7 linked regions of the Homo sapiens genome follow. The protein of the gene in region 1 interacts with the protein of each later gene in a pairwise test. Each region holds a gene or a part of one and is shown in the gene's direction. Other genes may lie near its edges. The genes, in order: EIF3M, ZMYND10, TRIML2, ABI3, EIF3B, ZNF783 and EXOSC10.

Region 1 (3,500 bases):
TGCTTTCAAGTTCCTAAAGCAATATTTCTTTTTAGTGATGCTGCTTCAAAAGTCATGGTGGAATTGCTCGGAAGTTACACAGAGGACAATGCTTCCCAGGCTCGAGTTGATGCCCACAGGTAATGTTAAACGTTACTCTGATGAGGGTTTGACAGCGATGTAGAGGTAAGCTACAATATTAAATTAAGTAACTGAAATCATGTTTGCAACTACCAGTGATCCAGAGCCATTTGATAGTGTGTATTTCCTGGTGATTCTAATGTAGATACTAAAATTCAAGGTTTGATATTGGAAGAACTGTGGATTGAATATGAAGTAGCTGCATGGCGTTTACCTGGCGGGGGGGGTATTGCTGGTATGGGGATGATGATCCCAACCCAAGAATTAGAACCTAATCTTGGGCCAATTGACCCTAATTTTAAGGTTATAGGTGGAAAGTTGATGGCTTGCCAAAAATTAACCCATTGCTAATGAGTATAAGGGCTTTTAACAGTCTTAGATCTAACTGGTAACAAGAATAGAATCAGTTTTCTAAATCTATGTAATAAGGATTATGAAACTTCTTTTTTTGGTCATTGCTTTGTGTGGACCTCTACATGATAGGAGTTGGTAAAAAGGGAAGTTGGTGGTAAAGATCCTTGACTTTGAGGTCAGGCTGCCTCCATTCACATTCTTACTCCACCTCTTAATGAGCACTTCTGAACTGCTTCATAGTTGATAAAGGGGGCAGAGTAATACTGTTTGTCTCCTAGGTTGTTGTGAGGAATAAATGAGATGTAAGGCAAGTGAAGCACTTAGTGTCTTGGCATGTGGTTCTGCTGCTGCTTACTATTTGATTACCTTGGTGCTTTCTCTCCAGCTATGTTTTTATCTACAATTAATATATTTCATTTTGTTAAAACAGATGAACCTGATAAATGTGTTGGCCTGTCTTAACCCAATCCTGTAGCTTTTTTAATGTTGTTTATATGTTTTGGACTGTTAGATATTTTGCCGAATTAAGTATATTTTATGATCTGCAAAAACTCAATGAAAAGCCAGGATTTCAAAACCCTGAGCTTACATTTTTGTTCTCTAATTAAGGTGTATTGTACGAGCATTGAAAGATCCAAATGCATTTCTTTTTGACCACCTTCTTACTTTAAAACCAGTCAAGTTTTTGGAAGGCGAGCTTATTCATGATGTAAGTAGTTTATCCTTTAATGTGAAAAATGTTCTCCTTTCCTAAATTTTACATACTGAAGCAGGACTCTTTTTCTTTGCATTAATAAAAGTGACTAATGGCAAGATATGGAAAGATTAAGAACTATGTATTCTTTTTATATCAGGAACAGACATATTTAGGACCAGCTTTTCTTCATCCACTGAGCAGAGTCCTATTCTTCCTCCCTTTCTTAATTTCTTTTTTTTTTTTGAGACTGAGTCTCACTCTGTCACCAGGCTGGAGTGCGGTGGCATGATCTTGGCTCACTGCAACCTCTGCCTCCCTGATTTAAGCAATTCTCCTGCCTCAGCTTCCAGGAGAAGTAGCTGGGATTACAGGCACATGCCATCAGGCCCAGCTAATTTTTGTATTTTTAGTAGATACAGAGTTTTGCCATGTTGGTCTGGTCTCCGACTCCTGACCCCCCTGACCCCAAATGATCTGCCCACTTCGGCCTCCCAGAGTGCTGGGATTACAGGCGTGAGCCACTGTGCCCGGCTACCTCCCTTTCTTTCATCTTCTCACTTACTCATCATTATAGACTTAGATAATACAAGTTTCTTTTTTATTACATATATATTGTTCCTAGCCCCACTTAGGAATATAAGTCTGATATTTAAAAACACATGAACATTTTTCAAATGCAAGTATAAATATATTTTGGACTGTTGTGCATCTGGACTATGCCATTAGCCATCATCTTTCAGTGTGGATAATTTAGAGCTCAGTGTATTTACTGATTATTTCATTTTAAAAGTGAGCCATGTGAAAGCAGATGGTTTGGTAATTTGATGAAACAGAATGATATTTCTGCCTTGAACAAAATGTAGGAGTCAGTATCTTTAAAATAATATTTACAATATCTTAGAATATCTTACAATAAATCTGAATTCTGTATTGATGGTATCTTTTTTGTCTCTTATCTGTATAGCTTTTAACCATTTTTGTGAGTGCTAAATTGGCATCATATGTCAAGTTTTATCAGAATAATAAAGACTTCATTGATTCACTTGGTAAGTTTTGGGGTTTATTCTTTGAGGCACAGAGGTGGGAACATGATACACTAACAGTTATGTACTATGTGTTCCAGCAAGTATGGCTGTGGCCTTATTTGTAGATTATCCTAAAAGGAGTCGTGTATGATAGAACAGCACAAAAATAGGTAGACAGTTTAAAATATTACTTAGAATGAATTGAGAATCAGAAACCAAGAAGGTGTAGGAGGTGGCATTTGTGATAGAAAGAGAATGAAACTGGGAGTATGAAAACAACTCGGGGCCCAGCGCGGTGGCTTAGAGGTATAATCCCAGCACTTTGGAGGCCGAGGCGGGCGGATCACGAGGTCAGGAGGTCGAGACCATCTTGGCTGACTAACATGGTGAAACCCTGTCTCTACTAAAAATACAAAAAATTAGCCGGGCGCGGTGGCGGGTGCCCGTAGTCCCAGCTACTTGAGAGGCTGAGGCAGGAGAATAGCTTGAACCCGGGAGATGGAGGCGGAGGTTGCAGTGAGCCAAGACTGTGCCACTGCACTCCAGCCTCGGCAACAGAGCAAGAGTCTGTCTCAAAAAAAAAAAAAAAAAAAAGAAAGAAAAGAAAACAACTTAGCACTTGTAATCCCAGCACTTTGGGAGGATGAGGTGGGTGGATCACTTGAGGTCAGGAGTTCAAGACCAGCCTGGCCAACATGGCAAAACCCCATTTCTACTAAAAATACAAAAATTAGTGGGCATGGTGGCACATACCTGTAGTGCCAACTACTCAGGAGCCTTAGGCAAGAGAACCACTTGAACCCGGGAGGCAGAGGTTGCAGTGAGTTCAGATCACACTGCTGCACTCCAGCCTGGATGACAGAGTGAGGCTCCATCTCAAAAAACAAAAAAAAAAGAGAGAGAAAATGACTTGGAACCTTTTTGTCTCATTTAAGAGCTTGCTGAACTTTAGGCCCTTCCAGCTCTTCTGTACCATGATTCTTTGAGGTAAAGTTATATCAACAATCGGGTGTTTGGAGAAGATTGAAGAAATAGTTCCATTGGTACATTTGTTTTTAAAATTTAGAGATGGAGGAGTGAGCAGAAAAGCAACTGAAAGAATTACCATTACTTTGATCATAATGGTAACTTTCAGAAATGTTTTAAGAGCTGATAAAATTTGATGATTAAAGGTACTTTATTAAGCTAAACATTATTCTTAAAATAATATTGTTTCTTTGTAGAAGACTTTATTCCTTAGATATATGGTGATTTGTATTTTTGGTCCCTTTTTTTAAGCCATAGCCACAGAATGGTAACAAATA
Region 2 (4,142 bases), on another chromosome or scaffold:
CTGAGGTCAGATGTTCAAAAACAGCCTGGCCAACATAGTGAAACCCCATCTCCACTAAAAAAAAATACAAAAAATTAGCCAGGTGTGGTGGTGCACACCTGTAATCCCAGCTACTCAGGAAGCTGAGGCAGGAGAATCACTTGAACCTGGGAGGCAGAGGTTGCAGTGAGCCAAGATCATGCCACTGCACTCCAGCCTAGGTGACAGGAGACTCAATTTCAAAAAAAGATGTGATCAAGAGTGAGTTGGGTTGGAGGCAGGGACTGCTCTGGATTAAATGGCCAAGAAAGGCCATGCTGAGGTGTAAACTGAGCCCTGAAGGAAAAGTATTCCAGGCAAAGTGCAAAACTCTGAGGCAAAAACCTCTTTGGAATGTATGAGGGAGGTTCAGGGAAGCAAGGAGGAGAGGAAAGAATCCAAGTCCCGAGGTACAGGAGAGGACAAGAAGTAGATCTTGCAGAGCTGCTAGTAAGCGGCATCCCACCTAACATTTTGAGGGCCAGAAGTAGCCACAGAGCCCCTCTCACGCAAGGGAGTAATGTCTATATGCTTTTTTTTTTTTTTTGAGACGGTCTCCCTTTGTTGTCCAGGCTGGAGTGCGGTGGTGCAATCTTGCCTCACTGCAAACTCCACCTCCTGTGCTCAAGCGATTCTCCTGCCTCAGTCTCCCATGTAGCTGGGACTACAGGTGTGTGCTACCACACCTGTCTAATTTTTGTACTTTTAGTAGAGACAGGGTTTCACCATGTTGCCCAGGCTGGTCTCAAACTCCTGACCTCAAGTGATCCGCCTGCCTCGGCCTCCCAAAGTGCTGAGATTACAGGTGTCAGCCACCGCGCCCGGCCTGATATACACTTTTAAGGCTCCGGGCTGTCCATGAGGATCAAGCGTGGAAGTAGGTCTACAGAAAAGGCTGCCGCAGTTCACCCATGACAGGTGATGACAGTCTGGACATAGGGAGGATGGAGAGAAGTCGTGCGCCCTGGCAGTATTTCAGGAGCCAACTAGTGGAGCCGGGACGCGAGAAATAGAGGAACCAAGAAGCCATAAGGAGGAGGAAGAGCAGCGGGTAGGTCAAGATGCCACAGCCGCAGGAGGGGCTGTTGGGGTCGGGGTTACCCCCATCCCTGTGCAGGCGGACTTGGCGTCTGAGGACAGAGTCCAGACCACAAGGATCTGGAGCTCAGGAGAGACTCGTGGGCCACAGCCCGAGAAAGCGCTGGGAATCCAAATACTATGGCGATTGGCAGTCGCGTAGGCGAGGCGGGCTAGAGACCCGCCCGGATTTAGGCGCGAGCCACCTCCAGGGGCGGGGCCCAGGCCGCACTGCGCAGGCGCGGCTAACCCGTTTCCATGGCTGCGAGAACTGACGCTCCCCAACCGTCCCGCAACTGTCCTGTCCCAGACTTTGGCACCGTCGGGGTCCGTCGTCCCCGAATGTGACAGCATCCCCACCCCGGCTGCTGCCCAGGATCCGCCGGACCCCGGCCTCGATATGGGAGACCTGGAACTGCTGCTGCCCGGGGAAGCTGAAGTGCTGGTGCGGGGTCTGCGCAGCTTCCCGCTACGCGAGATGGGCTCCGAAGGGTGAGGCACCCGGGTCAGGCGGAGTCCCGGAGTCATTGTCCTTGAGTCGGGGAGCTGGGGCCTGACTCGGGGGAGGGGCTGCCCAGTGTGGAGGGGCTCCCAAATGGGGGAGCAGAGCGTTCCGAGACAGGAGTATTACTGCTCCTGAGCCCCCTGTGTCCCCTCAGGATCAGGTTAGGCTTCAGTAGGATCCAGCCCCCATCCCCACTCCTAATGCACACACGTGGACGCACATGCACTTACCCTCTGAGGCAGGTGGAACCAGCAGCATGAGAACCTGGAGAAGCTGAACATGCAAGCCATCCTCGATGCCACAGTCAGCCAGGGCGAGCCCATTCAGGAGCTGCTGGTCACCCATGGGAAGGTACCCCGAGGTCACAGGCAGGGTTCCTGCCTTCCCCCATACCTCACCTACTCTACCCCTCCGGAGTCCCCTGTGTGCCCTTCCCCTCTGGCCTGGTACACCTGTTCTCCCTGAAGGACAAAGAGGAATGTGTTACATGTTTCATTTTGTATCCCTATTGGACAGGACTCTGGCACACCAGGCTGGGTGCAGGGCATGAGTTGATTAGGGAGAAAGCTGTAGGTCCTAGAACAGCTTAGGCTTCAAGGGGAAGGCCCAAATGCTAAAGGCATCTGTGAATTGACTGTAAGGCTGGTGGTGGGGAAGGGGTGGGGAGGGGTTGGGGAGGGCGGGAGGGAGGGGAGATAACCTAACTGGAGGTGGAACTTCGGCATGGAAGGAAGCAGCCTTCCCAACATGAAAGGGGGAAGTTAGAAACCAGGGAGATGCCTGGCTGGAACATGGACCAGGGAGTGTCACCAGCAGATGACCTGAGATATCAATTGACCAAAAAAAAAAAAAAAAAAGCCGGGCATGGTAGCTCATGCCTGTTATCCCAGCATTTTGGGAGGCCAAGACGGGTGGATCATCTGAGGTCAGGAGTTCAAGGCCAGCCTGGCCAACATGGTGAAACCCCACCTCTACTAAAAATACAAAAATTTGCAGAGCATGGTGGTGCACACCTGTAATCCCAGCTACTCGGGAGGCTGAGGCAGGAGAATCGCTTGAACCTGGGAGGCAGAGGTTACAGAGAGCCAAGATCATGCCACTGCACTCCAGCCTGGGTGACAAGAGTGAAACTCCGTCTCAAAAAAAAAAAAAAAAAAAAGAAAGGTCCTTTGCAAAAGAAAGATGGAACTCATACTAGGGGATAGGATAGGAACAGGGCACTGTGAAGGGTCCTGAGTAGGAGTGAGGCCAAGGCACACAAGAGCTTTGGAGGACCACAGACAGGGACTAGAGGGAGGGCATGAGGAGAAGGGCTGGCTTGAAAGGGATGCCTGAATGGGCGGGCAGAGGATAAGGGTGCAGGTGCAGGCAGGGCAAGGCAGTCTGGGAACTGGGCAGGAGCCAGTCACATAAGCATGAGGGACATCCACAGAGGTGTTGGGAGCAGCTGGTAATGAAGGTCCAAGGTGCAAGAGAGAAGTCAGGAAGGATACTCATGGGTCTGGAATAGTTTAGGGGCCCAGCAGTGTTTGGGGATATCAGGGTTGAGCTGAGCCGGGGATGGGAGGGTTGCCAGGCAAAGGTAGGCCCATCTCATCCCTGTCCTTTACCCTACCCTTCAAAGGTCCCAACACTGGTGGAGGAGCTGATCGCAGTGGAGATGTGGAAGCAGAAGGTGTTCCCTGTGTTCTGCAGGGTGGAGGACTTCAAGCCCCAGAACACCTTCCCCATCTACATGGTGGTGAGCTGGGCCCCTGGTTCATACCTCTTCTCACTCCTTCAGAGGGCTCTGGACCGGGGAGGAGAGCTGGTAGCCCCTATCCCTTCCTCAGGCCCTGTCCTTCTCTTTATCTGACAGGTGCACCACGAGGCCTCCATCATCAACCTCTTGGAGACAGTGTTCTTCCACAAGGTGAGGGACTATCTCTGCCCATGGGCCACAGTTCCGGGTCAGGGCCTGGCAGGAAGGGAGATTGTGTCTGTGTGGGGAAGGCATCAGACACAGAAAGTTTCCCTCCTCCTTTTCCCAGGAGGTGTGTGAGTCAGCAGAAGACACTGTCTTGGACTTGGTAGACTATTGCCACCGCAAACTGACCCTGCTGGTGGCCCAGAGTGGCTGTGGTGGCCCCCCTGAGGGGGAGGGATCCCAGGACAGCAACCCCATGCAGGTGGGTTGAGGTTACCTAGGGTTGTGAAAGCCTAGGTCTGGGTTCCCCAAGGCCTGCGCAGGTGAGGGTGGCCCAGCGTGAACACTGTGTGACCTCCCAGGAGCTGCAGAAGCAGGCAGAGCTGATGGAATTTGAGATTGCACTGAAGGCCCTCTCAGTACTACGCTACATCACAGACTGTGTGGACAGGTGAGCAGTCCGACTGGGCCTGGGCCTACTGTGGAGGGCTGGAAGACCGGGCCTGTAGCCTGCCTCTACTCACCTCCTTCACAACGTCCCTGCCCCTAGCCTCTCTCTCAGCACCTTGAGCCGTATGCTTAGCACACACAACCTGCCCTGCCTCCTGGTGGAACTGCTGGAGCATAGTCCCTGGA
Region 3 (3,500 bases), on another chromosome or scaffold:
GAGGCGGAGCTTGCAGTGAGCCGAGATGGCGCCACTGCACTCCAGCCTGGGCGACAGAGCGAGACTCCGTCTCAAAAAAAAAAAAAAAAAAAAAAAAACCAAGAGAGTAAAAGCAGAGGTGGAGAGACGTGCAAAGGGACTTGCAATAATTAGGGAGAGATGATGGTGAGCTGGGGGACAGGTAGAGCAGTGGTGAGAAGTAGTCAGGTTCTTGATAAATCTTGATTTCATTGAATCTTTTTTTTTTTTTTTTTGAGATGAAGTTTCGTTCTTGTTACCCAGGCTAGAGTTCAGTGACGCGATCTCGGCTCACTGCAACCTCCGCCTCCCGGGTTCAAGCAATTCTCCTGCCTTAGTCTCCCAGGTAGCTGACATTACAGGGGCCCGTCATCATGCCTGGCTAATTTTTTTATTTTTAGTAGAGACGGGGTTTCACCATGTTGGTCAGGCTGGTCTCGAACTGCTGACCCCATGATCCACCTGCCTTGGCCTCCCAAAGTGCTGGGATTACAGACGTGAGCCCGGACAATTTCACTGAATCTTAAATAGCTTAATAGAGATGCTATTTAAGCATCTCTAAGATGACTACTTTCAAATATATATCCCTAGCTCAGATTTCCAAATGGTAGTAGGCTTCATGTCCAATTTCCTACTTACTATCTTTACTTGGATGTCTAATTGACTAATCAAATTCATCACATCCCGAGCTAACGCACACTCCTCACTTCTGGAATCCAGCCTTTCCATAGATTCTCTCTATATATTTTGGTAATTCCATTCTTCCAGTTGCTTAGTCTAAAATTTTTGGTGTCTTTCGTCCATGACTCCTTTTTTCCCCACAACTCTTACCCAAGCATCAGCAAATCCCATTGGCCCTTTTCCAATGTCCTGGTCTCCTCCTCTGTTTGACAGAGGCTATAGCTTCCTTAGTTTTTCCTTATTGATGAACATTTCTTTTTTTTTTTTTTTTTTTTAAGATGGAGTCTCCCTCTGTCGCCCAGGCTGGAGTGCGGTGGCGCCATCTCGGCTCACTGCAAGCTCCACCTCCCGGGTTCACGCCATTCTCCTGCCTCAGCCTCCCGAGTAGCTGGGACTACAGGCGCCCGCCACCAAGCCCGGCTAATTTTTTGTATTTTTAGTAGAGACGGGGTTTCACCGTGTTAGCCAGGATGGTCTCGATCTCCTGACCTCGTGATCCGCCTGCCTCGGCCTCCCAAAGTGCTGGGATTACAGGCGTGAACCACCGCGCCCAGCCAATTCATTGATGAACATTTCTTCGTCTGCATTTTATGTTCTAAAATTGTGTTGATGTCTTGGCTGATGTTGACTCAAATTCTATTTCTCCTTTGGGTTTATTCCTTTTCTTCTGTACTTTACATTTCCTCGTCTTTTTTTGTTTGTTTGTTTTTTTGAGACAGAGTCTAGCTCTGTTGCCAGGCTGGAGTGCAGTGGCGTAATCTCTGCTCACTGCAACCTCCACCTCCCAGGTTCAAGCGATTCTCCTGCCTTAGCCTTCCGAGTAGCTGGGATTATGGGTGCTCCCCACCACGCCCAGCTAATTTTTGTATTTTTAGTAGAGATGGGGTTTCACCATGCTGGCCAGTATGGTCTCGATCTCCTGACCTCGTGATCCACCCACTTTGGCCTCCCAAAGTGCTGGGATTGCAGGCGTGAGCCACTGCGCCCAGCCTTCCTTGTCTTTATATTGGGGTTAGAGATGGAAAGAATACATTGTGGTCAGTGTAAGATATATATATCTATATATAGATATAGATATCTATCTATTATGACGTGTGTGTGTGTTGTTAATCTATCATGTTTAACCTGAAGTCTATCATGTCTATATGAGGAAGGAAGAGGAACAAAATTTTAAAAAGATGATTGAGTCTGAGTATAGTATGAGACTCCGGTTGTTGAATGAAGAGTGTGAGCAGAATCTCCAGAGACAGCAGGAATGCATATCTGACTTGAACCTGAGAGAAACCCTTCTGAATCAAGCGATCAAGCTTGCCACCGAGCTAGAGGAGATGTTCCAGGAAATGCTACAGGTGAGATATTGAAAACAACATCCTCATATTTGAGAAATGAGAAAAAGAAGAGCTAAACATTATGTCAATTCCAAAATAACATAGCCAGTGACAACCACACATGTATTAAATGAATTATATACCTACCTGGCAACTCCATTTCTATGAATTTATCTTGACATGCATATAAAAAGACATAAATAAAGCACAATATACCTATAAATATATTTGTACACATATTACTGTATTATGCTTCAAACATACTTACACACATAGAAAAAGACACCTGGGTAAGGCAACACTGAAACTGAGTTTCAGTTTAGAGCCATGGTTTAGAATTCACCTTTCTTTTTTTTGAGACAGAGTCTGGCTCTGTCTCCAGGCTGGAGTGCAGTGGCGCAATCTCAGCTCACTGCAAGCTTCGCCTCCCGGGTTCACGCCATTCTCCTGCCTCAGCCTCCCAAGTAGCTGGGATTACAGGTGCCCGCCACTACGCCCGGCTAATTTTTTGTATATTTAGTAGAGACGGGGTTTCACCGTGTTAGCCAGGATGGTCTCGATCTCCTGACCTCATGATCCACCCGCCTCAGCCTCCCAAAGTGCTGGGATTACAGGCGTGAGCCACCGCGCCCGGCCTAGAATTCACCTTTGAAGCCGGATGAATGGAGTTCCTATCTGAGCCAGCTGTTTACTGGCTCCTGGGTGGCCTACGACCTGCTGCTTAACCTTTGACTTGGTTCCTTTAGCTGTAAACTGGATATAACAGTGACCCCTAATTTATAAAATTATTGTGAGATTTGAGTGAGATAATCTGCTAAAGCTTATTAAATCGTGTCTTGTTCATGTTAAGCAGTTGATGAGTAGCAGATGTTACAATTATAACATTCATAGCAAGAGGTTAGAAACACCCTGTATTTGTCAATAGAAGACTCACAAAATGTGCTCCATACATACATGGAAGAATACTCTTCAGCATGTTAAGATGATGTCATGGCTCTGTGTATATGAATAAGGAATGTTCTCCAAGAATAAAGTAAGTTGTCAGATTAGTAATCAAATATAATAAACTATCACTTATGTTTATGTTTTTTCCCCCTAAATAACATACTCAAGTTGCGTATGTGACTACGCAGTATATGTAAAGTATACTTGGAAGGATAAAAAGAAAATTGATATCAGTAACGTAATTATTTATTTCTTATTAGTTAATCTATATACCTTAATTTTAATTGATTTCAAGTTAATGAAAAAATAGGGAACCTTCTGAACAAACAGCCACAGAAAAAACATGAAATGTTTTAGGTGCATATTAATGTGAGTAAGGGCTGCGTGCACACACATCTGTATTGGCTTAAACATACATAACAGGGGGCAAAGAATCAACTGTCTCTTGAGAGGAATCCTGCTTCAGCAGAAGAATATCATGGCCTTGCCTAATTATGTCTGTTCCTGGGGTAGCAGGCAGAAAAGCAG
Region 4 (4,091 bases), on another chromosome or scaffold:
AGCTGTGCCACTTAGTACTTGGGGCGTGGCCACCTCTAATGCCTCTGTTCAAGCTTCTTTGCTGCCATGCCTCCCTCTGAGCCCTGAATGTGGGTTCCTGAGCACAGAACCCACATCCTGGTTTTTTTCTTGCTGTCCCCCCAGGACCACCCAAGGGCTATGCCATTTAACAGACATTGAGCTCCTGCTCTGGTTGACACCCATCCAATGACAAGGGACCCGCTGGAGGAGCAAAAGTTAAGGGACCAATATGGTCAATGGGAGGTCCTCTTATTCTCCTGTCTCTAGGATGACAGGCTTGGTGGTGGGAGGGGCAGAGAGGAGGCCCGCCGTCCATCCTAACTTCCGTGCTCCAGGACCCAGTCCAACTCTCAGCTGGGAGCTCTAAGAATTTGAAATCAGAACAGGATCCTGGAGGTTGTCTGGTACAACTGTCCTGTTAATGCGTGAACCACAGCCCATACCTCCTAGGCAGGCTCAGTGCTCTGTCCACCGCTGCTTCCTAAAACCGCAAGTTGATCTGAAATTTGAACCTGGTGCTTCTCAAATCCAAGTCCTTCCTGTTGTCTAATCTGAGTCCCTCACATTACGCTTGGTCAATTTCATCTTGTCCTGCCTTCATCTGCACAGAGCGTGTAGGGCAGATCTTCATCACACACAACCCTTCGCAGGCTTGCTAACACCCCTCTGGCAACCTCTCTGGTCATGTCTTCCCGGTGTCCAACCCTGACCCCTCTTGCTGCCGCATCGGCTGTTTTCTATTTTTGCTGTGCTGCTGCCCCACAGTCCTCTGGTATGACGGATCTCCATATCCTATCCACCCTCCACTCCCCTGTCCCTTGGTGACTCATCCCTGAGCTTCCCAAGGAAGCCCCCACCCTCTGCCCTTTCCTCCCGCCTTCCATGAGTGGAAAATCCACCTCCGCCCCCTATAGCAGGCCAGCCCCCTTCCTCCCCAGTCTCCGACCCCATCCCCCAGCCGACCAGTTTCCTCTCCAGGACCAGGGAGCAATCACAGCTGCCCCGACCTTGGCTTCCTCTGCTGGGTGGGATTGGGGGCTGGGCCCCCAAATGGGCCCCTGGCTTCCCCCTTCCTCTGGGCAGGGGACAGAGAGACACAGGCTCGGGGAGCAGGACTGACTTCCTCTTGTCCCGGAATGAGCATGCCTGCCCTTTGCAAGCAGGTTTGGGTCTCACGCAGAGGAAACCAAAAGCAATAAGAGGGAGGGAAGGCAGAGCAACCAATCAAGGGCAGGGTGAGACTCAAAACGAGCGGGCTCCCTGGGGAGCCAGACAGAGGCTGGGGGTGATGGCGGAGCTACAGCAGCTGCAGGAGTTTGAGATCCCCACTGGCCGGGAGGCTCTGAGGGGCAACCACAGTGCCCTGCTGCGGGTCGCTGACTACTGCGAGGACAACTATGTGCAGGTAGGTAGAGCGGGCGGAAGCCTGACACCCCAGCCCCCGGAGGGGGGACCCTGAGCCCTGCCCCAAGTGGGGCCCTGGGACCCATCCTGACAGTGCTTGTCCTGGGCCTTGGCTGAGAAATCCTCCCATTCCAGGCTTCGGCTTCATCCCAGACCCCAATACTTAACCCTGACCCCATACTACCCAAGCCCCCACTGTGCCCCTTCTGTCTCTCAGAGCCTCAGAGATGCCTGGGACAGACAGTGCGATTCCATCCTGTTCTCAGGTGTCACCTCAGGTTCATCCTTCTGAGTTCCCACGGGTCAATCCAGAGACCCAAAGCCTCCGTCCTCACACAGATGCTGGCGATCATTCTATTTCCAGGCCGGCTCTGGGTGAGGCTTCAGAAGAACTTCCCAAACAGCACAGTGAACCTGAGATGGACAAGGGAAAGGGGCTCTTTCCCTGAGTTTGGGAAAGGGAGAGTGGGGATAAGGCAGAGTAGGCTGGGCTAAAGAGAGGGGATCTCATGCAGAGGCAGGGGGATGGCCCACATAACTGCTGGGAGCAGGCTTCTAGCAACAGATAGGGAGGTGGCATTGTAGAACAGGTTTTAAATTGTGTGGTTGTCCTGGGGCTGAGAACATAGATTCCTGGATTCAGGGAGGAGAGGCAAGGCAACTGAGCCATGATGGAAATCACTTCTGTTATTTCATTAATCTGTACAACTACCTTGTGAGACATGTATTATAATTCCTATTTTACAGATGTGGAAACAGTAGCTCAGGGAGGTGAGGTGACTTGTCTAAGGCCACACAGCTCCAAACAGCAGAGCCAGGCATTCCTTTTTTTTCGCTCTTGTTGTCCAGGCTGGAGTGCAATGGCTCGATCTTGGCTCACTACAACCTCCGCCTTCCGGGTTCAAGAAATTCTCCTGCCTCAGCCTCCTGAGTAGCTGGAATTACAGGCATGCACCACCATGCCCGACTAATTTTATATTTTTAGTAGAGACAGGGTTTCGCCATGTTGGTAAGGCTGGTCTCGAACTCCTGACACCTCAGGTGATCCACCCGCCTTGGCCTCCCAAAGTTCTGGGATTACAGGAGTGAGCCACTGTGCCCAGCCAGCCTTTTTTTTTTTTTGACGGGGTCTCCTCTGTCACCCAGGCTGGAGTGCTGTGGCATGATCATAGCTCACGTAGCTTCACTGAAGCCTTGAACTCCTAGGTTCAAGCAATCCTCCCACCTCAGCCTTCTGAGTAGCTGGGGCTACAGGTGCATGCCACCATGCCTGGCTAATTTTTTAAATTTTTTTGTAAAGACAGGGTCTCCATATGTAGCCCAGGCTGGTCTTGAACTCCTGGCCTCAAGTGATCTGCCCACCTTGGCCTCCCAAAGTGCTGGGATTACAGGCATAAGCCACCACATTTGGGCTTCCCTGAATCCTGATGCCAAGCTCTTTCCTCTCCATCTTTCTGCCTCCCTACACGCTATGTGACTTTACGACAGTTTATTAGCACTCTCTGTCCCCGGTTTCCTCTGCTCCCTGAAGAGCTGCAGACTAACCTTGTTACCCCTTGGGCAAAACTTTATTTTTCTAACCTGTACTAACCAAACTATGAGAACAGGCACAGGGACCTTGTAGCATAGTAAGAATGTTGAAAAAAGAAGTAAATGAGTAACAAGTGCTCATGGGAAATGGCAGATTAAAGACAGTCAGTAATGACAGCAGTTAAAATGCTCTGGACCCTTCTTTTGGGCCAGGCATGTTACCAGCATGGCCTCCCTTCATCCTCATCTGAAGTCCGGTGAGGCGAGTCCCATGCCCACTTCACAGTGAGGAAGCTGAGGTTTGGAAAGGTTAAGTCACTTTCCCAGAAGTCTCCTAGCTAGTGTCAGAGCCTGAATTCAAACGCAGAAATCTGATTCCAGAGCCCACTCCCTATGCCACTAACTGAAAATGCTACTCTGGGTATCATTTCGGTCTGTGTAGATGTTGAGTGACCACCTGCAGATGAGACAGAATGAGGCTTGCAAACCAGCTCATTCTCCTAGCATGGAAAGGCATGTTTCCTCTATGGACAAGGATCCAAGCAGTCCTTTCCATTCCTTCCATAACTTCTGCACACCTCAAAGAGCTTCCACAGGGCTCTCATTTGCACACACAGTGTGCACACACAATTTGGGGTCGCAAAGACCTAAGTCAAATTTCCAGTTCTGCCACCTACCAACTACAGGAACTGTGGCAAGTTTCTCCTCTGATTCTCATGCCTGCCTTCAGTGGTGGCTCCATGGATTCAATATAAAAATGTATCAAAGCATTCAGCCTAGTGCCAGCCCCTTCAGAAGAGCAGGATAAATGGCAGCTCTTACAATGACCATCACTACCATTCATTGGAAGGATGGATAATAAGAATCAGTTCTAGGGAGGAGAAGCTGTCCTTGCAAAAATATGCAGGGCATGAGAAGCCCTGACCCAAGTTGGAATCCTTGGACTCCTGCTTCCTTCGTGCAGAGTACTAACTACTAGAACACACAACTTGTTACCTTTCCTGGCCTTTCTGAGGATCTTTATCTAGGCAAATGCCTAGGAAGGTTCTGGATCTCAGAACTTCTGTTACCTAAGGCCTGATTCCCCTACCCTCCAACCCCACCTGCAGCCCCTCTCTCCCCACACCACCCAGATG
Region 5 (3,500 bases), on another chromosome or scaffold:
GCTGCTGCATTTTCTGTGTTGGGCAGTCAGTTGAAGGATGGCCTCTTGACCCTCAGTTACTCGTGTTATAATGAAACATTCTCTGAGGTTCTTTCTTTCTTTCTTTTTTTTGAGTCGGAGTCTCGCTCTGTCGCCCAGGCTGGAGTGCAGTGTCGCAATCTCGGCTCACTGAAAGCTCCGCCTCCCAGGTTCACACTATTCTCCCGCCTCAGCCTCCCTAGTAGCTGGGACTACTGGCGCCCGCTACCACGCCCGGCTAATTTTTTGTATTTTTAGTAGAGACGGGGTTTCACCATGTTAGCCAGAATGGTCTCGATCTCCTGACCTTGTGATCCACCCGCCTCGGCCTCCCAAAGTGCTGGGATTACAGGCCTGAGCCACCGCGCCCGGCCTCTCTGAGCTTCTTTCTAATCTTGCCTGTAATACACAATATTAGACTACTTTTAAGTTTTTTTTGTTTGTTTGTTTGTTTGAGACAGTCTCACTCTTGCCCAGGCTGGAGTGCAGTGGTGTGATCTCAGCTCACTGCAACCTCCGCCTCCCGGGTTCAAGCAATTCTCCTGCCCCACCCTCCCAAGTAGCCGGGATTACAGGCGCACACTACCACGCCTGGCTTGCTTGCTTGCTTATTTATTTATTTATTTATTTATTGAGACAGAGTCTTGCTCTGTCACCCAGGCTGGAGTGCAGTGGCACGATCTTGGCTCACTGCAACCTCCGCCTCCCAGGCTCAAGCAATTCTCCTGCCTTAGCCTCCTGAGTAGCTGGGATTATAAGCATGTGCCACCATGCCCGGCTAATTTTTGTATATTTAGCAGAGACAGGGTTTCACCATGTTGGCCGGGCTGGTCTCGAACTCCTGACCTCAAGTGATCTGCCCACCTTGGCCTCCCAAAGTGCTGGGATTACAGGTGTGAACCATTGCGCCCAGCCAAGATTTTTTTTTAAACAGCTTTATTGAGATAATTGATATACAGTAAATCTGCATAGTTTTAAAGCGTACAATTTAATACATTTTGATGTGTACATATCACGAAACCATCGCCACAGTCAAAATAATGGACGTTTTGATTAACTTTTCTATAATTATGATAATGAAACTAGAGACTTCGGATCTTCTGGTTAGGATTTCCCTGTCACTTAGGAGCTCCCTGGCTGTGGATCTGTCCCCCGTGTGACTGCCTTAGGCTCGAGGCAGGAAGAGCAGCACAGATACTCCTGGCACCGAGGGCTTGTCCGTGGAGAGGGGTGGGGCGGACAGCGCATACCTGCCTAGCCTTACAGTGTGGGTATGTGCCAACGGCCCTCTCTCACTCAGGTATATTTTCCTGGAGTACGCGTCCCCTGCCCACGCTGTGGATGCTGTGAAGAACGCCGACGGCTACAAGCTTGACAAGCAGCACACATTCCGGGTCAACCTCTTTACGGATTTTGACAAGTGAGTTCAGACTTGGCCACAAGGAAGTGGACGTTGACGTGCAAGTGACTGGCTGTGTGCGGGTGGCTTGGTGCTTCTCGGTGCTGGTGTCTGTCAGATTGTTCACATCCTTTCTGGTCAGGCTGCCGCAGAGCCATTTCACAGCCCTGCCCCACACTTCTGGCCTACAGCACCCCTCCCTGTTATGCCAGTCACAGCCCTGGGGGCGGGCAGGCAGGAGCACAGCAGGGCCATGCTGGAGCCCCCACGAGTTGCTCTTTCTAGTCGTCAGGGCGTGGGGCTCAGCAGTCTCCTTTCTTCTCCAGGTATATGACGATCAGTGACGAGTGGGATATTCCAGAGAAACAGCCTTTCAAAGACCTGGTGAGTGGCCTGAAACCTACATCTCAGTGGTTTAAAGAAATGCTGCTGGGTGTGGTGGGTCACACCTGCAATCCCAGCACTTAGGGAGGCTGAGGTGGGAGGATCGCTTAAGCCCAGGAATTCAAGACCAGCCTGGGCAACAAAGTGAGACCCCCGCCTCTACAAAAAGTAAATAAATACATACATTAGCTGGGCCTGGCATGCACCTGTATTCCCAGCTACCTGGGAGGCTGAGGGGGGAGGATCACTTGAGCCTGGGAGGTTGAGCCTGGGAGGTTGAGGCTGCCGTGAGCTATGATTGTGCCACTGGACTCCAGCCTGGGCAACAGCGTGACTCTGTCTCAAAAAAAAAAGAAATGCTAGACGGTGTCTTGACTTGAGGTTAGGGTGTGACTTGGGAGTTAAGATGTGGACTGAACTTGTCATATCTTTAAGAGCAATAGTTGTGAATGAGTTTTTTATTAAAATTAATGAAATGTTATATTCCTTGTCTTTGTTTTTAAGGGGAACTTACGTTACTGGCTTGAAGAGGCAGAATGCAGAGATCAGTACAGTGTGATTTTTGAGAGTGGAGACCGCACTTCCATATTCTGGAATGACGTAAAAGACCCTGTCTCAATTGAAGAAAGAGCGGTGTGTATTTGCTGCTGCTGGGGGCGGGGACTCACCTCTCCTGTATTTCCTTAACAAAGTGGAACTTTGTTTCTATCAGAAAACTGGAAGAGCAGGTGACGTTATATTTTCTTTGAGATTACTTTCTGAAAACAACTTCTTTTATTCCTCTTCCAGCTTTGAAGTAAATCCTGAGAAGTGAACAGGCTTTGTGTATTTCACTTAAGAGTTTGCAGAATAGGCCGGGCGCGGTGGCTCACGCCTGTAATCCCAGCACTTTGGGAGGCCAAGGTGGGTGGATCACGAGGTCAGGAGATTGAGACCATCCTGGCTAACACGGTGAAACCCCGTCTCTACTAAAAATACAAAAAAATTAGCTGGGCATGGTGGCAGGCACCTGTAGTCCCCGCTACTCGGGAGGCTGAGGCAGGAGAATGGCATGAACCTGGGAGGTGGAGCTTGCAGTGAGCTGAGATTGCGCCACTGCACTCCAGCCTGGGAGACAGCGAGACTCCGTCTCAAAAAAAAAAAAAGTTTGTAGAACAGATTCATTGTAGGATAAATTCATTGTAGGAGGGGTCTTTGTGTTTGCCATTTTGTTGTATTAACGTTGGCACTGCCTTTTTCTGCAGAGATGGACAGAGACGTATGTGCGTTGGTCTCCTAAGGGCACCTACCTGGCTACCTTTCATCAAAGAGGCATTGCTCTATGGGGGGGAGAGAAATTCAAGCAAATTCAGAGATTCAGCCACCAAGGGGTTCAGCTTATTGACTTCTCACCTTGTGAAAGGTAAGCTGCTAGAAAAACACAGGGGAGTCTATGCATTTCACCCCATGCCAGCCTTCTACAGGTGATCTTTCATTTTGTAGCATTTCAAACTTAGTAGAAAAATACGGGAGTATGCAGAACGCTAATAAGCTTTTTACTGAGATCTTCTCACATTTGGTTGCATTTACGTCATCATCTCCTATACAGATATTTTTTCCTGAGCCATTTGGGAGTGAGTTGAAATAACATGTCCCTTTAGCCCTGAATGTGTATTCCTAGAAATAGGATTTTGTTAGTGTGACCATAGTGTGGGTACTG
Region 6 (3,147 bases), on another chromosome or scaffold:
GACCTGGCAGGAGCCCACAGAGGACCCCTGGCGGGGTCTCTCCCCTGTGCCTGACGCAGGTTCTTCCTTTTCCTGGGATGGAGAGAGGTTTGTTGTTTTTACCCATTCAAATGGGAAGCTAGCTGCCCTTCTGGTGACATTGTGTGTGACCGGGTGCTTTCTGTTTCCTGTTTGCACTCTTCGCTGCCTTTTCTGCATTCCTGACTTCTAAAAGATGCCTTAAGGCTTAAGGGATGCCATATTTTTGATAAGGCCTCTGGTAGGTACCACAGCCAAGAGGACCAGAGATCATGGCCCTTCCAGTATGGGGGCGATAGAGACATCGGGGACCTGGGATTTTTGTTTTGTGCAGAGATCTCCTGCCTGCTGTCACCATGAGAAACAGTGGAGTGGAGTGGATGGATGGCCTGACTTGAAGAAAGGGCCCTGGAAAGTTTTCTACTTTGCTATTTTGAAATTTTTTTCCCTTCTTATAGAGACTTTGAAATACTTTTGTAAATGTGTGTAGTTGTTAATGGAACTTTGCCTTTTGCAAAGTCGGAAAGAGTCGGCTTTTCCATGTGAGGCTCGCAGAGCTGAAAGGGGAGCTACGTCCACCAGCCTGTGGGTCTTTTGGTTTTTTTTTTGTTGTTGTTGTTGTTTTTTTAAGATGGAGTTTCACTCTTGTTGCCCAGGCTGGAGTGCAATGGTACAATCTCCGCTCACTGCAACCTCCGCCTCTCGGGTTCAGGTGATTCTCCTGCCTCAGCCTCCTGAGTAGCTGGGATTACAGGCGCCCACCACCACTCCCGGCTAATTTTTGTATTTTTAGTAGAGACAGGGTTTCATCATGTTGTCCAGACTGGTCTCGAACTCCTGATGTTAGGTGACCCGCACACCTCGGCCTCCTGAAGTGCTGGGATTACAGGCGTGAGCCACCACTCTTGGCCCAGCCTGTGGGTTTTGATGGGGATGTCTTGGCTGCTGTCTTGGAGGCACAGTGTCTCCCCATGTGTGTGTTTCTTGGCCCAGAGTGACTCCCAGTATTCCTAGTCCTTCCCCACAGGATAGTCACATCCATTATTTACTTTTGTTGTCAGCTGGGAGGGGAAACTGAAGCCTGGACACGTCTCCCCAAGGGCTCAGTGTTCATGGGTGTGTAAGATCCATTGACTGGACCCCAGAAAGCACCCTGAGGGGCAGTGCAGAGAGAGCCCAGGAAGCCCCTCCACTAGAGGAGGCCCTTGGTCTGGCTGAGGACCACGTCCACCCTGGGCCTCCAGGCCTGCTTTTCACATTAAAGGCGGGGCAGTCTCCTCTCAAAGGAGTTCTCCCTTGAGCACTTTGGGCTCTGGGGCAGAGTTGGGCTAGGAGATCTGGGTGAATCCTTTAGTCACAGCTAGTCTCATGTTCCTCTTCTGTCAAAGGGGTCATGGCCCCAGTGTGTCCTACCTCAGAGTTGTCAGGGTCAAAGTAACAGGCACTGGGACAAATATGAAGCCTAGCTTTGTGCTTCCTTTCAAATTCAGGGCCTCCTTTCTACTCCATTCCAGCCTTTTTTTCCTGTCAGAATCCCTCAGGAAGGACCTTTATCTTCTGGAGTGAGTGGCAGTTCCACTGGGTTCAGTGAAAGAGTCGCCCATGGGGCTCTGTTCCCCAGGAGTCCTTTGTATTTTGGTGAACAAATTCTTACCAAAGCATGAGATTCGGACTGTAGAAGTTCAGACTGCCTCAGTTCAGACTGCCTCATGGGGCAGTCTGGAGGTCAGCTGGCTTCTGGTGTCTCTCATCACACCACTGCGGACGCTGTCTGTAGAGCAGCCTTGGTGTGGGTGACTCTGAAGCTGGAGTGATGGGACCCCAGCTATCCTTGTTTTTTACCGCCTTGTCTGGCACTGTGACCACGCTTCAGGGCTGCTTCTGGGGGTCTTGGTCCCTGGATGTGCCATTTCCTTGCCCTTCTGACCCTCACACTTCTTCCAAAGTCTTGAGCAGAGTTGGGGGCCAATGGTAGCATTGCTGTCATCTCTGGGAGGAGAGTGAGTATACAAGTCAGTGACAGTTCAGCCAGGCTCCCTTGGGTTTGGGAAGAGGCACTGCCCTTCTGTGCTGTGGATCCTGCTTGTCTGCTCTGGAGTCCCCCCACCCTTGCCAGGAGCTTCACAAACCAGAGACGGGCTGTCAGCAAGAGCTCAGACAGGATGTGGTGCAAGTGCAGGTGCACGAGTTTAACCCTCAGCTGCAGGAGCTAGTCTCAGGTGTTCTGGGGATGCCTCAGGCTAAGAATTTTGCCGACTTTCTGGGCTTGGTTGGCTAATGCCAAATGCCCCTGCTTAAATATCACAAGGTGCTGATTCTCCTTTTTTCTTTTTTTCATACCAATGTGCTCAAACTTTGAGCTAGGTCTTGTGAGTTTGCCTAGCACTCAGACCTGTTTAAGTAACGTTCTTTACATTGAAACAAGTCAACCGAAGCTTTGTGGTGCAGGAGCTGAGGGTGCCCCAGACTCAGTGGGAGCCCTGGTTGGGCCCCAAACTCTCCCAGCAGGGTCCTCGGTTTCCTCATTTGTGAAATAAATGAGTGGGCCACGACGTTAATAAGCCCAAGAGAACTGTGAAGGTGGTAGTCCCTTGCCCTAATTGGTGCTCAATAAAGTTGTTGGCATAAACGAGTGCGTGCGCTTGATCTGGTTTCTGCTCTCTGGGAGGTGAGTGGCCGTGCGGGGCGGTGGCAGCTGGCGACACCTGCGGGCTGTTGGGCACCAGCCCGGGGCGGGCGCTCGCACCTGTCGGGCGTGCACAAAGGCCCGGCGCACGCTGTGGGGGCGGGGCCTCCCGGGTTGGCCAATGAAAAGCTGGCACTGGGTCGGAGGCGCCAGCCAAGTGGGGGGCGGAGCTTCCACCACCGGCCAATGGGGATCTGGCTTCGGGATGTGGGCGGGGTCCACCCGGTCGCAACCCGTTGAGTCTCTGCACAGCTGCCGCGCTGACGCGTTTTCCGCGTGTCCCGAGCCCCGGCGGCCCCGCGAGCTCGGTCCGTGCGGGGAAAGCAGGGCTGACGCCGTCTGCGGAGAGGACTGCGCAGCCGGGCTTGTGTGGGGCCGCGCGTAACGGCAGCGGCTACTCCCTGCCCAGGCCGGCCAGCACAGGGCCATGGCCGAGGCGGCTG
Region 7 (3,500 bases), on another chromosome or scaffold:
CGTCTGCTTTAAAGTGCAAAATAGATGAGGACTCCCTGCAGTTTCATTCTAAATAGTGTACTTCTATATTTAATGTATGCAGTCCAGGGACTTCTTAGTTATTTTAGTGGCCACATTACACTGTTAAATCATATTAGAATTTTCAGCCCAATTCAGAGCTTTAAAGAGTCAATCGAGTATTGGGCATGGGTAATTACTGTCCTACCTGCCTTTGAGCAAATAATGCATTAATTACTTGGCATGACATACTAATGACCTTTATTGATCAACTTTGTAAAATTTTTATTTTTTTATTGACAAAAATTGTATAGGCGATCATTTACATGGTTATGTCTCAATAAACCTATATTATAAGTCAAAAATGCATTTAATACACCTCACTTACCAAATAGCTTAACTGAACCTGCTTTAAATGTGCTCAGAAAACTTCCATTAGTCTACAGTTGGGCAAAATCTTACACAAAGCCTATTTTTATAATACAGTGTTGAATATTCATCTCATGTAATTCAAGTAGCATTGAATACACTTCTGAAAGTGAAAAACAGGTTGTGGCCGGGCACAGTAGCTCATGCCTGTAATCCTAGCATTTTGGGAGGCCAAGGCAGGTGGATCACTTGAGGTCAAGAGTTCAAGACCAGCTTGGTCAACATAGTGAAACCCCATCTCTACTAAAAAATACAAAAATTAGCTGGGCGTGGTGGCGTGCACCTGTAGTCCCAGATACTCGGGAGGCTGAGGCATGAGAATTGCTTGAACCCAGGAGGCGAAGACTGCAGCAAGCTGAGATTGGACCACTGCACTCCAGCCTGGGCAACAGAGTGAGACTCCCTCTCAAAAAAAAAAAAAAGAAAAACAGGGCCAGGCACAGTGGCTTACGCCTGTAATCCTAGCACTTTGGGAGGTCGAGGCAGGCAGCTCACAAGGTCAAGAGATCGAGACCATCCTGGCCAACCTGGTGAAACCCTGTCTCTACTAAAAATACAAAAATTAGCTGGGCGTGGTGGTGCATGCCTGTAGTCCCAATTACTTGGGAGGCTGAGGCAGGAGAATCGCTTGAACCCGGGAGGCAGGTTGCAATTAGCTGAGATCACGCCATTACACTTCAGCCTGGCAACAGAGCAAGACTCTGTCTCAAAAAAGAAAAAAGAAAAACAGGTGGTAAGTGTACTTGAAATATGGATTCTACTAAATGCAAATCACTTTCACATCATTGTAAACTCAAAAACTTACAAGTCAAACTGTCATACATTGGGGACCATCTATATATTTATTACATACAACTTGATGTTTTGATACATACATTGATCTGTTCTTATATATGTATATTTTCTTACACAAATGTCTCTGAATACCAATCTCTTTAAAATGTTAGGTAATTAGGTGGGGCACGGTGGCTCACGCCTATAATCCCAGCATTTTGGGAGGCTCAGGTGGGCGGATCACTTGAGGTCAGGAGTTCGAGACCAGCCTGGCCAACCGGGTGAAACCCCATCTCTACTAAAAATAAAAAATTAGCCAGGTATGGTGGTGCACACCTGTAATCCCAGCTACTCGGGAGGCTGAGGCAGGAGAATCGCTTGAACCCTGGAGGCAGAGGTTGCAGTGAGCCCAATTCAGAACTGTAAAGAGTTGCAGTGAGGCAAGATTGCGCCACTGCACTCCAGCCTGGGTGACAGAGTGATACTCCATGTTAAATAAATAAAATGTTAGGTAGTTAACTCTGCTAACCTCAAAAGGAAAAATGCTTAACCAGTACCTCTTCTACTCTTAGGGTATTTTACTGGATGAAGCCTCAGGTGTAAACAAGAATCAACAGCCTGTCCTCCCTGCCGGCTTGCAGGTCCCCAAAACGGTAGTGTCCAGCTGGAACCGTAAGGTGAGGGCTTTTCAGATTAACTAGAGCTCTTGATGTCAGCTTCATAACAGAGATTTTGCTCATTCTAACATGCATTTCTGTTCTAATTTATTAGAGAACTGGCCACTGTCTCCTTTAGTTTGTTCTCATAAACATACACAAACTAATTACACCCTCTTCTTCTCTTTCTGGAGACCTCTACATGCACATACATTCTTAAATGAATGAATGACCTTTGCGATGTTCTTGTCTCCTCAGAAGTCATAAATTGGAATTTACTTTTCTAATTCATCAAGTTGCTGTGTTATAAAGTATTTGTATTCATTGATCATAGGCAGCAGAATATGGCAAAAAAGCAAAATCTGAAACTTTCCGGCTGCTTCATGCAAAAAATATCATCCGACCTCAGCTCAAGTTTCGAGAGAAGATTGACAATTCCAACACACCATTTCTTCCTAAAATCTTCATCAAACCCAATGCTCAGAAACCTCTCCCTCAAGGTAAATAGTGCATACTTTGCCTGTGTTTGAGTCTCACTTTATTTGATGCAAAAACCAGGAAGGGTGTACAGGTCTCTCTTCTTTGTTCAAAGGGAGCCCACCCTCCTTTGTTCAAAGGGAGCCCAGTTCAGCTATTCCAGAGGCTGAAGTGGGAGGATCACTTGAGCCCAGGAGGTCAAGGCTACAGTGAGCTGTGCTTGTGCCACCACACTTCAGCCTGGGGGACAGAACATGACCCTGTCTCAAAAAAAAAAGCCAAAAAACAAAGGGAACCAGTTTACCCCTGTGTAATTAGAAAAGACATGAATGTGCTAATGATGTTTTTGTCACTGCTGGGATCCCCAGCTCTCTCTAAGGAAAGGCGGGAACGCCCACAGGATCGTCCTGAGGACTTGGACGTCCCCCCTGCACTGGCTGATTTCATCCATCAGCAGAGAACCCAGCAGGTTGAGCAAGACATGTAAGTGTTGGCCTGTGTCTGACTTTCTGCCGTGAGTACTTACCTTTTTGCCACATTTTCACTTTTGTGGAGTATATACATGAAAACAATCTGAGGAGTAGTGATTTCCTCCTTACACCCCAACCTGGGCCTTAGCAATAAAACCTGCTGTTTGTGTTCACAAAGGGCCTACACAGCATTGCCTCATGTAAACCTCACTGCAGTCCTGAGAAGTAGCAGTTGCTCTTATTCCCATTTTATAGATGTAAAACACGAAGGCTGGGCGCGGTGGCTTACGCCTGTAATCCCAGCACTTTGGGAGGCTGAGACCGGTGGATCACCTGAGGTCAGGAGTTCGAGACCAGCCTGGCCAACATGGTGAAACCCCATCTCTACTGAAAATACAAAAATTAGCCAGGCGAGGTGGTGTGTGCCTGTAATCCCAGCTACTCGGGAGGCTGAGGCAGGAGAATCGCTTGAACTTGGGAGGTGGAGGTTGCAGTGAGCCAAGATGGCGTCACTGCACTCCAGCCTGAGTGATAGAGTAAGACTCCATCTCAAAAAAAAAAAAAAAAAAAGATGTAAAAGCAAAATTAGAGATGCAGGCTTCTTGTAGAGTTGGAACTTCTTTGAGACAGGGTCTTGCTCTGTCGCCCAGACTGGAGTGTGGTGGCATGAACACAGCTCACTACAGCCTTTACCTCC

The links.
Region 2: the proteins of EIF3M (region 1) and ZMYND10 interact in binary tests that used the Homo sapiens proteins (3 or more experiments, as listed by UniProt).
Region 3: the proteins of EIF3M (region 1) and TRIML2 interact in binary tests that used the Homo sapiens proteins (3 or more experiments, as listed by UniProt).
Region 4: the proteins of EIF3M (region 1) and ABI3 interact in binary tests that used the Homo sapiens proteins (3 or more experiments, as listed by UniProt).
Region 5: the proteins of EIF3M (region 1) and EIF3B interact in binary tests that used the Homo sapiens proteins (3 or more experiments, as listed by UniProt).
Region 6: the proteins of EIF3M (region 1) and ZNF783 interact in binary tests that used the Homo sapiens proteins (3 or more experiments, as listed by UniProt).
Region 7: the proteins of EIF3M (region 1) and EXOSC10 interact in a two-hybrid assay, tested with the Homo sapiens proteins (one large-scale study listed by BioGRID and IntAct).

Annotation. Positions count from the first base shown.
Region 1 is NC_000011.10:32,593,831-32,597,330, forward strand, and holds part of EIF3M (eukaryotic translation initiation factor 3 subunit M), read left to right. Parts: intron 1-35; coding exon 36-119; intron 120-1,083; coding exon 1,084-1,183; intron 1,184-2,135; coding exon 2,136-2,217; intron 2,218-3,500. UniProt on the Homo sapiens protein: Component of the eukaryotic translation initiation factor 3 (eIF-3) complex, which is required for several steps in the initiation of protein synthesis.
Region 2 is NC_000003.12:50,342,933-50,347,074, reverse strand, and holds the start of ZMYND10 (zinc finger MYND domain-containing protein 10), read left to right. Parts: upstream 1-1,342; 5' UTR 1,343-1,495; coding exon 1,496-1,587; intron 1,588-1,842; coding exon 1,843-1,951; intron 1,952-3,224; coding exon 3,225-3,341; intron 3,342-3,458; coding exon 3,459-3,512; intron 3,513-3,630; coding exon 3,631-3,768; intron 3,769-3,868; coding exon 3,869-3,957; intron 3,958-4,056; coding exon 4,057-4,142. UniProt on the Homo sapiens protein: Plays a role in axonemal structure organization and motility. Involved in axonemal pre-assembly of inner and outer dynein arms (IDA and ODA, respectively) for proper axoneme building for cilia motility.
Region 3 is NC_000004.12:188,099,604-188,103,103, reverse strand, and holds part of TRIML2 (probable E3 ubiquitin-protein ligase TRIML2), read left to right. Parts: intron 1-1,830; exon of another isoform or gene 1,831-1,844; coding exon of another isoform or gene 1,845-1,853; coding exon 1,854-2,048; intron 2,049-3,500.
Region 4 is NC_000017.11:49,209,416-49,213,506, forward strand, and holds the start of ABI3 (ABI gene family member 3), read left to right. Parts: upstream 1-1,291; 5' UTR 1,292-1,309; coding exon 1,310-1,426; intron 1,427-4,091. UniProt on the Homo sapiens protein: May inhibit tumor metastasis. In vitro, reduces cell motility.
Region 5 is NC_000007.14:2,361,327-2,364,826, forward strand, and holds part of EIF3B (eukaryotic translation initiation factor 3 subunit B), read left to right. Parts: intron 1-1,318; coding exon 1,319-1,438; intron 1,439-1,743; coding exon 1,744-1,801; intron 1,802-2,305; coding exon 2,306-2,434; intron 2,435-3,045; coding exon 3,046-3,203; intron 3,204-3,500.
Region 6 is NC_000007.14:149,282,342-149,285,488, forward strand, and holds the end of ZNF783 (zinc finger protein 783), read left to right. Parts: coding exon 1-2; 3' UTR 3-2,647; downstream 2,648-3,147. UniProt on the Homo sapiens protein: May be involved in transcriptional regulation.
Region 7 is NC_000001.11:11,089,870-11,093,369, reverse strand, and holds part of EXOSC10 (exosome complex component 10), read left to right. Parts: intron 1-1,772; coding exon 1,773-1,877; intron 1,878-2,190; coding exon 2,191-2,356; intron 2,357-2,701; coding exon 2,702-2,816; intron 2,817-3,500. UniProt on the Homo sapiens protein: Catalytic component of the RNA exosome complex which has 3'->5' exoribonuclease activity and participates in a multitude of cellular RNA processing and degradation events.